Linked DNA regions of Homo sapiens: region 1 is linked to region 2. The links come from fine-mapping of genetic effects on gene expression. A gene starts in region 2. The other region holds a variant in brackets. All regions are shown on one strand. Distances are between the middles of the regions. Region 1 holds the start of ETF1 (eukaryotic translation termination factor 1). Region 2 holds the start of SNHG4 (small nucleolar RNA host gene 4).

What was found. PIP is the estimated chance that this variant, and not a neighbour inherited with it, causes the effect.
Region 1: its variant is fine-mapped to the expression of SNHG4 in monocytes after Pam3CSK4 (Quach 2016, PIP 0.95).

The regions. Positions count from the first base shown.
Region 1 is chr5:138,539,167-138,543,553 of GRCh38, reverse strand. ETF1 (eukaryotic translation termination factor 1) reads left to right here and starts at 318. Exons shown (of 11, transcript NM_004730.4): 1 at 318-457; 2 at 618-721. The coding sequence starts at 636. RefSeq lists enhancers at 1-157, 1-666, 1-807 and a silencer at 448-497. The variant A/CA (reference allele first, on the strand shown) is at 1,789.
Region 2 is chr5:139,271,635-139,276,021 of GRCh38, reverse strand. SNHG4 (small nucleolar RNA host gene 4) reads right to left here and starts at 1,921. Exons shown (of 7, transcript NR_182757.1): 1 at 1,861-1,921; 2 at 1,408-1,658. It overlaps LOC124901081 (a long non-coding RNA gene), which reads left to right. Exons shown (of 4, transcript XR_007058956.1): 4 at 2,368-2,955. It also overlaps a transcript of MATR3 not described here. RefSeq lists a silencer at 1,848-1,927 and an enhancer at 2,218-2,567.

The DNA.
Region 1 (4,387 bases), 730 kb after region 2:
ACCCCGGTCCTCTCTCTTTAAGAACCACCCCCATTCGAGCCTGACGGGGGCTCTCAGTAAACTCGCGAGAGCCACCGGCTTCCGCCCGCTTCCTCCTCTCGCCTTGCCGGGCCGGAAGAAAGGTGGCACCTCCCACCCCCCAGCCTTACCTCACAAGGCGGCGCGGACCCAGCTGCAGCCAATCGGCGGGCTCATTGTAGGCTGCGGGGCAGAGAGCCAATGAGAAGTCGCGGCGGACGCCCAGCTTCTCCTCACTCGCACCGGCCCCCTCCCTTCCGCCTGCCGCCTTCCACTCCGCCCCTGGCGGAGGAAGTGATGTCACAGGCCCCATGTGAGCGGATTGCAACACATGCAGCTGCCTGGAGAGAGGGAGCCGGTGTCCTACGTCAGAGCCGCCGCCGCCGCGGAGCCGCCGCCGGGGAGGAGCAGCCGCTGCCGCCCAGGACTGGGCCCTTAGGTAAGGCACAGGGAGGGAAAGGCCGGTGACCTTTGTGGCGAGCTGCACCGGACGGGAGGAGAGGGCCTCTGGGGGATGGCGAGGAAGGGGGCCGCTCTGCCCCAGCGGCGGCGCTAACTCTGTGGTCTTGGTGTCTCCGGGCCCCGCCGGGCCGCTCTAGGGAGGAGGAGGCGAGAAGATGGCGGACGACCCCAGTGCTGCCGACAGGAACGTGGAGATCTGGAAGATCAAGAAGCTCATTAAGAGCTTGGAGGCGGCCCGCGGGTGAGCGCCGCGTCCGGCACCCTCCGTGCCCTCTTGGTTCCCGGACCCCTCAGGATGGACGCCCCCGCGCCGCATGGCCGGATGAGGAGAACCAGGCACTAGCCAACTCCCGCCTTCTGGATCTCTGGGTAGTAGCCCCTGACCCAGGGGCGAGGGTCGGCGCGGTTGGCCCGAGAAGGGGTCCTTTCCCCGCATGGGGGTAAGGGGCCCGCGCTCCCCGGTTTAGATCACTCGGCCCCCCTCGTGGTAGGCCACCGCTACTTTTGCACCTCTCCCGGGCCCTTAAGTCCAGGTCCTCCCTCTTCGGGCTCCAGGTGCTGCCACCCGACTCGGGTGCTATTGTGGCAAAGTGTTCGGCCTTCCTTTCCCAGGGCCCTTCCCTGATTTCCTCTTCTCCCTTCATTTCTCAGCCAGGCCTCATTAAAATGGCCTCTCCCTTCTGGGCTTCTGAGACCCGGGTGGGTGAAGTTTGGATGGGACGGGAAGCAGAGGTGGCCAGGGACAGCTTCTTTCTGATTCCTGATTTCTCTGGGTCTTCCACCTGTCCCAAGATGACTTCTCCCAAGTCCTCTAATTACCCCGGAGCTTCCTGGTTTTAGCTGTTCCAGGACCCACCTATAAACTGAAAATGCCAACGTACGCGCGATGTGAGGGGTGCTGGGTAGGTTTTGGTTAATGAATCTGCATGTGTATGTCCAGGAGAAATACGGGTTAGGGGGCCGTTTGATAGGAATCATAACTACAGAGTCCCTGCTGGCATTTCTCTGAAACTTGTGGGGATATCGCTGTAGAGAGGCGCCTGATGTGCTTGATGCTTGTTGAGTGAGATTCATAATTGAATTAAATGGGCTTTGAGTCTTGTACATTTTGATAAGAAACTGTAGGTGTGTCCATTGGGGGGAGAGTAGGCTAGATTAAAATTAGCTGTGTGTGTGTGTTTTCTTTTTTTTTTAACGTTGTTCGTTTGAGGAAGGTGTGCCAGGGGTATTCCTGTTTCTTTTATTACTTTATTTTGTTCCTTTCCCAGTCATAGAAACTTTTTACTTACAGGAAGTGCCCCCCCCCCC[A/CA]AAAAAAAGTGTTTGGAACATTATTACATACTTGTATGTCTGAGCATTCTTAGAATAGTAGAATGGCCTGCCTCAGGCCATGTGAAAAGTTGATTTCAGCACAAGAATTTGACATTCTGGTTTCCAGCCCAGGATTGTCATTTATGGGTAGATTTGCAATTTTAGAATGACAGCCCCTCCAAGCTCTTCATTATTACTGTTATATGAAACAGGATGTGCTTAATTGTACTGAAGGCCCAATTCACAGGTTGGTTTTACTAGTGTTTTGTTCTTAATAAATTAGGGACAGTTCTGTTTGGAATGAGGCTTCTAAAAGTTTGGCCCCATTCAGTGACGGGCTTGTGCTCACTCCTTCGGTTTACTGGAGAAACGTTAGTTTAATATGAATCGAAGACAGCGGCTTGTTAGTCCTTAGGTTTTTCTTTGAATTCAATAGAATATCCAGACCTTCTTAATGATCTTACAGGAACTTGTGCCGTATGATAGAGTGACCAGTTATTCCCAAAATGTGAGAATACTGTACAGAAAGGGTAACATAGGTCACGACCCATTATGTTGCACTACCAAGAATTAGCCAGGTTCTTTTGTTTCAGTAGGATCTTGTTTTGTTACTTGAAGCCTTCAATCCAGTATTGCATTTTATAGATTGCTGTTGTTGCAGTATTGTATATAGGTGGATGTGACCTCTGGATTTGTTCTTACTGCTTTCAGTAGCAGGCAGGTTTACACATTTTAATTTGCATACGTTATATTCTCTGAAACAGTCCAAAAAATTAAATCATGACTATAATTTGCCTGTTTGAATGAAGTAACATTGAAGATGACATTGCTTAATAAGTAACAGCATTCCTTTCTACTGCTTAATGAAGGAAACTCATTCTTAAATTTGTTCTACCCATGTTACCTAGCCACTAGAAACTTTTAAGCGCCTCTTTAAGGCTTTTGAAGGCTTTACCTCTTTGTTTAGCAAAGTTCAGTAAAGTTTAAAGCATGCTAAAAATGAAGTTATAAGACACAACTTGTATTTCAAGTTGTTGAGTTTGGATATTTCAGACATGATTAAGCTGTCTAAAATAGCTGGAGGACCTTCCGCTACACATTGTGGTTAATAATCATGTCCTACTTTGCTTTTAATCAGGATTTGGTTGCATCTTGATCCCATGGAAATTTAAAATCTTGGCCATCTCTGAGTATTGGTAAGGGAGTCAGAAGATTCCCCAGTATATACCAGTTTTTGGAGGTGGGAATATTTTCATTGCCAACTTGTGTTAAAGTCAGACTCTAGATTTTCATAGATAGGGTACAGTGGAAAATGTTATTCCTACTTTACCTAGTGATAAAATATCTTTAGAAGAATTGTAATGGGCTTTAAAGACTTAAGTGGATGGCAAAATGAATCTGTATTTGCTGATGTTTTGGGGATACTCTGGTTTTCAGGAGGAAACTGAGGTTTTCAGGCATGGTTATTAGGACAAGGTAGTGAGACTTAGTGGTTGAGTAACAGTATTGTTTTGGAAATGAAAAAGCCCTTTCCTCCCCTTAGCAGTGTAGAATTCTAGGCATAGGAATCATGGATTTGTTTTTAACAGTAGTTATTAAAATATGCTAGAATAAGAGTGATTTTGAAATTAAGATAATCCTATGTGGTTATCTCTTGATATATGACCCAAATTTAATGTAGCTTGAAAAAGGAACCACCTGCAAAATGGGCTCACTAACTACATCTGAATAAAGGGAAGTATGTTGGCAAAATAATTTATTAAGCACATACTATATTATAGACTGTGCTACAGTACATTATTAAGTCATTTAATCCTCACAAGTATTGCCACCATTTGGTAGACAAGGCACCTGAGGCTAAGAGATAATTTGTCCAAGATGTCACAGCAAAAATGTAGCAGAGTTCAGAACTTAAACCAATGTGCTATAATGGGTATATTTTATTTTCAGAAAATACAAAACTAGATTTCCTTAAAATGTAGTCTGAGCTATAACAGATTCTATTTTATGTTACACGTGTGTAGAAGAGCATTTATAGAGGCCACATTACTAAAATGGGGAACTTCATAGCATTCTGTTTTGTAACCAGCATCATACTTAATCTTCTGAGTTGAAAGGAGTGTCACACATAAACTTGATTTTTGATTTGGGTAGAACATGCTTATTTGGTTTCAGATAAGCCTGGTCGAATGTTAGTTTGTGTGTGCTAGTAAAATAACCAGTTAATTATTTTGGTAGACATAGGCCCCACTTAAAGTTGATGGTAGTTCTTCCCTGTTCATGATTGCTCCTGGTATATGCTCCACAGTTGGCTTATGAAGGACAAATGTATACATAAACCAATACTGTGGTTGAGGGTATCTTGAATAAGGAACTAAAACAGGTCAACGTATGTTGGAAAAAGGGGGAGAATTATTGGTTGTTTTTTCCCTTGGTGTTTTCTGAGCAGGCAAGAGGTGGCCTCAGAAATAATGTTGGACACCTTATAGTTTTAAGGTAATGTTAATAAAATCATAACTAGAGCCTGTGCTAGCCAGGGACAGTGGTGAATGTGACAAAGGAATGGACAGTGTTAATTTGGGTTAGGTTGTGTCTGTGG
Region 2 (4,387 bases):
AAACAATAGCAGACAATAAAACCAATAGCTTATCCTTGTTTAGCTTTGTTTTCATCTCTTGTTACTTATACACCACAGCAGTTCAATAGTAGCAAAAGAGTCGATTAAACAAATATCAGGGAGCCTGGCTCTATCCCCTAACCAGTGTCTAGCCAAATGATACTGGGCGAGAAACCTCTCTATACCTCAGTCTCATTTGTAGAATGGAGGTATTATATTACAGGGTCTTTCTCTGCCACCCAGGCTGGAGTGCAGTGGCACAATCATGGCTCACTGCAGCCTCCACTTCCTGGGCTCAAGTGATTCTCCTACCTCAGCCTCCTGAGTAGCTGGGACTACAGGCGTGAGCGAGCACACCAAGCTGAATGGGGATATTACTAATAGTCCTCTGTAAATAGGGTGGTTGGGAGGCTTAAGTGAAATATAAGCTAATCCTCAGGATAATGTCTGGTATAGTGTGGGCACTCAGTAAACACCTGAGGAGCTACATTCCAAAAAAGGCTTAGATGGTGAATATGAGTGAGTAAAAAGGGAAAAGTTATCCAGTGAGAGAAACGGGCAGTGAACAGTGGGAACACTGGATAGAGGAGGGCCTCCAATACTTCCTGAAGGACAATAAAAACAGCACTTGGAAAAATAACTGCAGTATTGGATGTGAGGGGAATTGGAGGCAGTAGTCGTGCCAAGACCTCAACTACTGATTAAAAGCAATAACGAAAATGTTAGGCCGGGCGCGGTGGCTCACGCCTGTAATCCCAGCACTTTGGGAGGCTGAGGCTGGCGGATCACGAGTTCAGGAGATCGAGACCATACTGGCTAACACGGTGAAACCCCGTCTCTACTAAAAATACAAAAAAAAAAAAAAAAAAAAAAAAAAAATTAGCCGGGCGTGGTGGCGGGCACCTGTAGTCCCTGTTACTCGGGATGCTGAGGCAGGAGAATGGCATGAACCCAGGAGGCGGAGGTTGCAGTGAGCCGAGATCGCCCTACTGCACTCCAGCCTGGGCAACAGAGCAAGACTCCGTTAAAAAAAATAAAAATAACCAAAATGTTTGCACAAATGATAATAAATATTCCTACACAGTCACCATTTTTTTTTAGACGGAGTCTTGCTCTGTTACCAGGTTGGAATGCAGTGGTGCTATCTCGGCTCACTGCAATCTCTGCCTCCCGGGTTCAAGCGATTCTCCTGCCTCAGCCTCCCGACTTCAGGCGTGCGACACCACGCCCAGCTAAGTTTTGTATTTTTAGTAGAGACGGGGTTTCACCATGTTGGCCAGGATGGTCTTCTTCTCTTGACCTCGTCATCCGCCCGCCTCGGCCTCCCAAAGTGCTGAGATTACAGGCGTGAGCCACGCGCCCGGCCTCACAGTCACCATTATAATTTATGTAAGGCTAAGATCATACCTTTTTCCAGCCATCCCCAAATTTCACTCCTGACTTCCTCCAAATAATTTAGAGGAACAGGAAAATGAGTAGAGAGGGTTCATTGTTCGCTGGGTCTAAAAACAGATCTAAAAATAGCCTGCCCCTTTCAAGGCTCGGGTTAAAGGGGCTGACTCAGTTCCACCGGACATTTGTTCCTCACAAACCTTCCAAAGTCCCTGCCTCTGGCCCTGGGAGATCGAGGCTCTCGGAGTCAGGCTCTATGGGACTCCCTAGGGAGAAGAGGGAAGAGGGATGGTAGAAAAACAGGGGACGACTCCGAGGCCCAAGTCTCTTTCAGATGCCCTCCAAGCTCGGGATCACGAGGGGACGAACCCCAATTTCGTCCCGTGCCCCGGCAGAAGCCACCCTGCACTGCTTCTTTCCCCAGGCTGGGAAACCTCCAAGGACTCTCCCCTCTGGGTCCTTACTCACGCGCACGTGTTCGGAGCTCCGCAGGGCGCAGCAGCACCGGCAGAGGCCGGAGGGGAAAGGGCAGCCGGGAGCCGAGGGGAACCCCGCCCCGGGGCGGCTACTGGGCGTGGCTTCGGTGGGCGGGGCCCTTGACCCCGCCTAGGAAAGGCCGGGCTTTAAAAAAAAAAAAAAATGCGAGTGCGGTGGCAGAGGTGAACCTGCTTCTTAGAGGAGAGAAGGGCTGGGGTCTGAGCAATGGCTGGGTTTGTTGGACTCCCATCCCATCTCTTAAGGGTAGAAGGGGCGCATAGTTCGCAGCTGCTCAGGAGAGAATCTGTGTGTCCTAGTGGAGCCAGGCTTCCTGCCTGCCCACACTGAGCGCCCCCGGAACGCTGGTTCCGCTCACGAGCGTGGCGCCTTTCCGTTGCTGCAGGCCCAGCCCACGCTTTTGCGCTTCCCACGCATATCCTTTTTCTGGCTTTCTGCGGCAGCGCTGTCATTCGGCTAATGGATCGCTCACCCACGCAGGTCACCTTGGTCCACGGTCTTCGGGATCTTTCCAGGAGGTTTTCGAATAGATTAAGCCAGTCACTCCTACTGCTGACCTCTGCAGGACCGGCCTCCCTAGTGCCCTGCAGTGGGATTCTTCGCCGAGCTGCAGTAACTGAAGAACACTGGCTTTCTCTGCTAGACTTGCCCTGCACCATGGCACAGTCAGGCAGAGTCCTTGGTCAGGACAGACTGCCTGCAAGGCTACCAGGATTTCTTTGGAACACTAAAACTTCCCTCTCCCAGTGGCTAGAGTCCATATGATTCTGCTGGGGTCCAGAGTGGAAGGCCTACAAGCAGTGATTCCCAACTCCATTCTCTAATTCCCCCAAATTCCTTTCCGACACCCGCCCCCCAACAACAACAACCAATCCTGTAAGTTTTGCTGATCTCTTGCACCTGGCACCATTGCCAGGTGAACCCCTGGGAACCAAGCCACTGCCCTTGGCATCTGCCAACATGTTTCATTGTCTATTTCCTCAGCTCTTTCATAATGAAAAAGGTATGCTTCTTGTGCACCCCAACTCTTGCAGACCTCTCCTAAGAAAGCCCAGAGCCCCAGTTTGATTCCAGCAAGAGACCCTAGGCTGTAGGGCCAAAGAGCCACTGGAGGGGAAGTGGCAAGCTCAAATCCTCCCCAGTTTTGATGCAGTTGGACATAGGCTCTGGTTGGGAAAAGGCTTACATAAATACAGTAATTTAAAAAGTCACATGACCAGTGCTGGGCTGGTAGGCAGGAGCTCTGCTTTGCAGTTAAATAGGAATGTGGCTGAAGACTGCTGCCATAATCAATGCCCACATCCGGCTGTCACAGCGTGTTCATAAAGGAAGGTTATGAGAGCTATAAAACCAGGCAGATTGGGTGGGTAATTGTCCTACCGAGCTCTGCTAAAGGAGAAATTGCATTGGCATCTCATATATTTCGCTTTCTTTCCTTCCAAACACACAAAGTGGAGAGGGCAGAGCTACCCTGAAGATTCATGAAAAGGAAAGATAGGGTGTGTGTGTGTGTGTGTGTGTGTGTGTGTATGTGTGTGTGTGAATGTGCATGTGTGCTTTCAGAGAAGAGACAAGAAGTAACTGAGGACAGGGAGCTATGCAGACCTTTGGGGAGAGAGGGACCAATAATCTGGTGATGACTGGATTCAGATTAGTCCAGGTAGAAGGCAGGATTTATGTGGAAGGCCAGCCATTATAAATAAGGCTGTGAGGTAAGCCATATTTTCATGTCCTGTTGAACAAGTGGTCAACTTTTTGGGCTATAGGTCTTTCAATGACCTTTGGAGAAAAACCTAGATGAAGATTTTGTTTCCAACTTAAAAATCCTTCATAGTCAACCTTTTTGACTTCCATCCTTTTAAATTCTGAATTAATTTTGATGGGTTGATTTATGTTTTTTTTACCTGTAATATCAACTATTTTTCTACTTTTTTGTTTCTTCTTGCAAAGACAAAATTATTGAGAATAATAACAAAAAATAAAAGGGAACATTTCTAGAAAAAAAGATGCAGCTAGATGGAAAGCAAAGGACTAGGGGAAGTCCATTAGCTCTGAGTTTGACCTCATAACTTAAAGCTGACCTCAAGTGACACCAGGTCCCCAAGCTTCTTCCCTGCCTTTCTCTTTATCCTCCATCTCTCCTCTCATTCCTGCTTCCCTCCTTGATGCTTTCTGCCTCTAAGACTGCTCTTTTTCTTTCTCCCTGAACAGGGAGAAAAACCACCAGTAGAGAAATATCTAGTCATTTGTTCAGTTAGTCAGTCACTCAGTCAATCAACATTTACGAAACATCTATCATGTGCCAGACTCTGTTCAGATGCTGCAGATAAAGTCAGAACAATAGAGATTCCTGCCTGCCTAAAGCTTACAGTCTAGAGGAGAAGAATGACAAGTACTATATGTATACTTGGTCACATGTCTGGGGGCAGCTAACATAGCCTAGGGGGTCAGGAAGAGTACTAGAGATAGCTGTATTCTCTCTGGCTGATCCTAAGGGCTT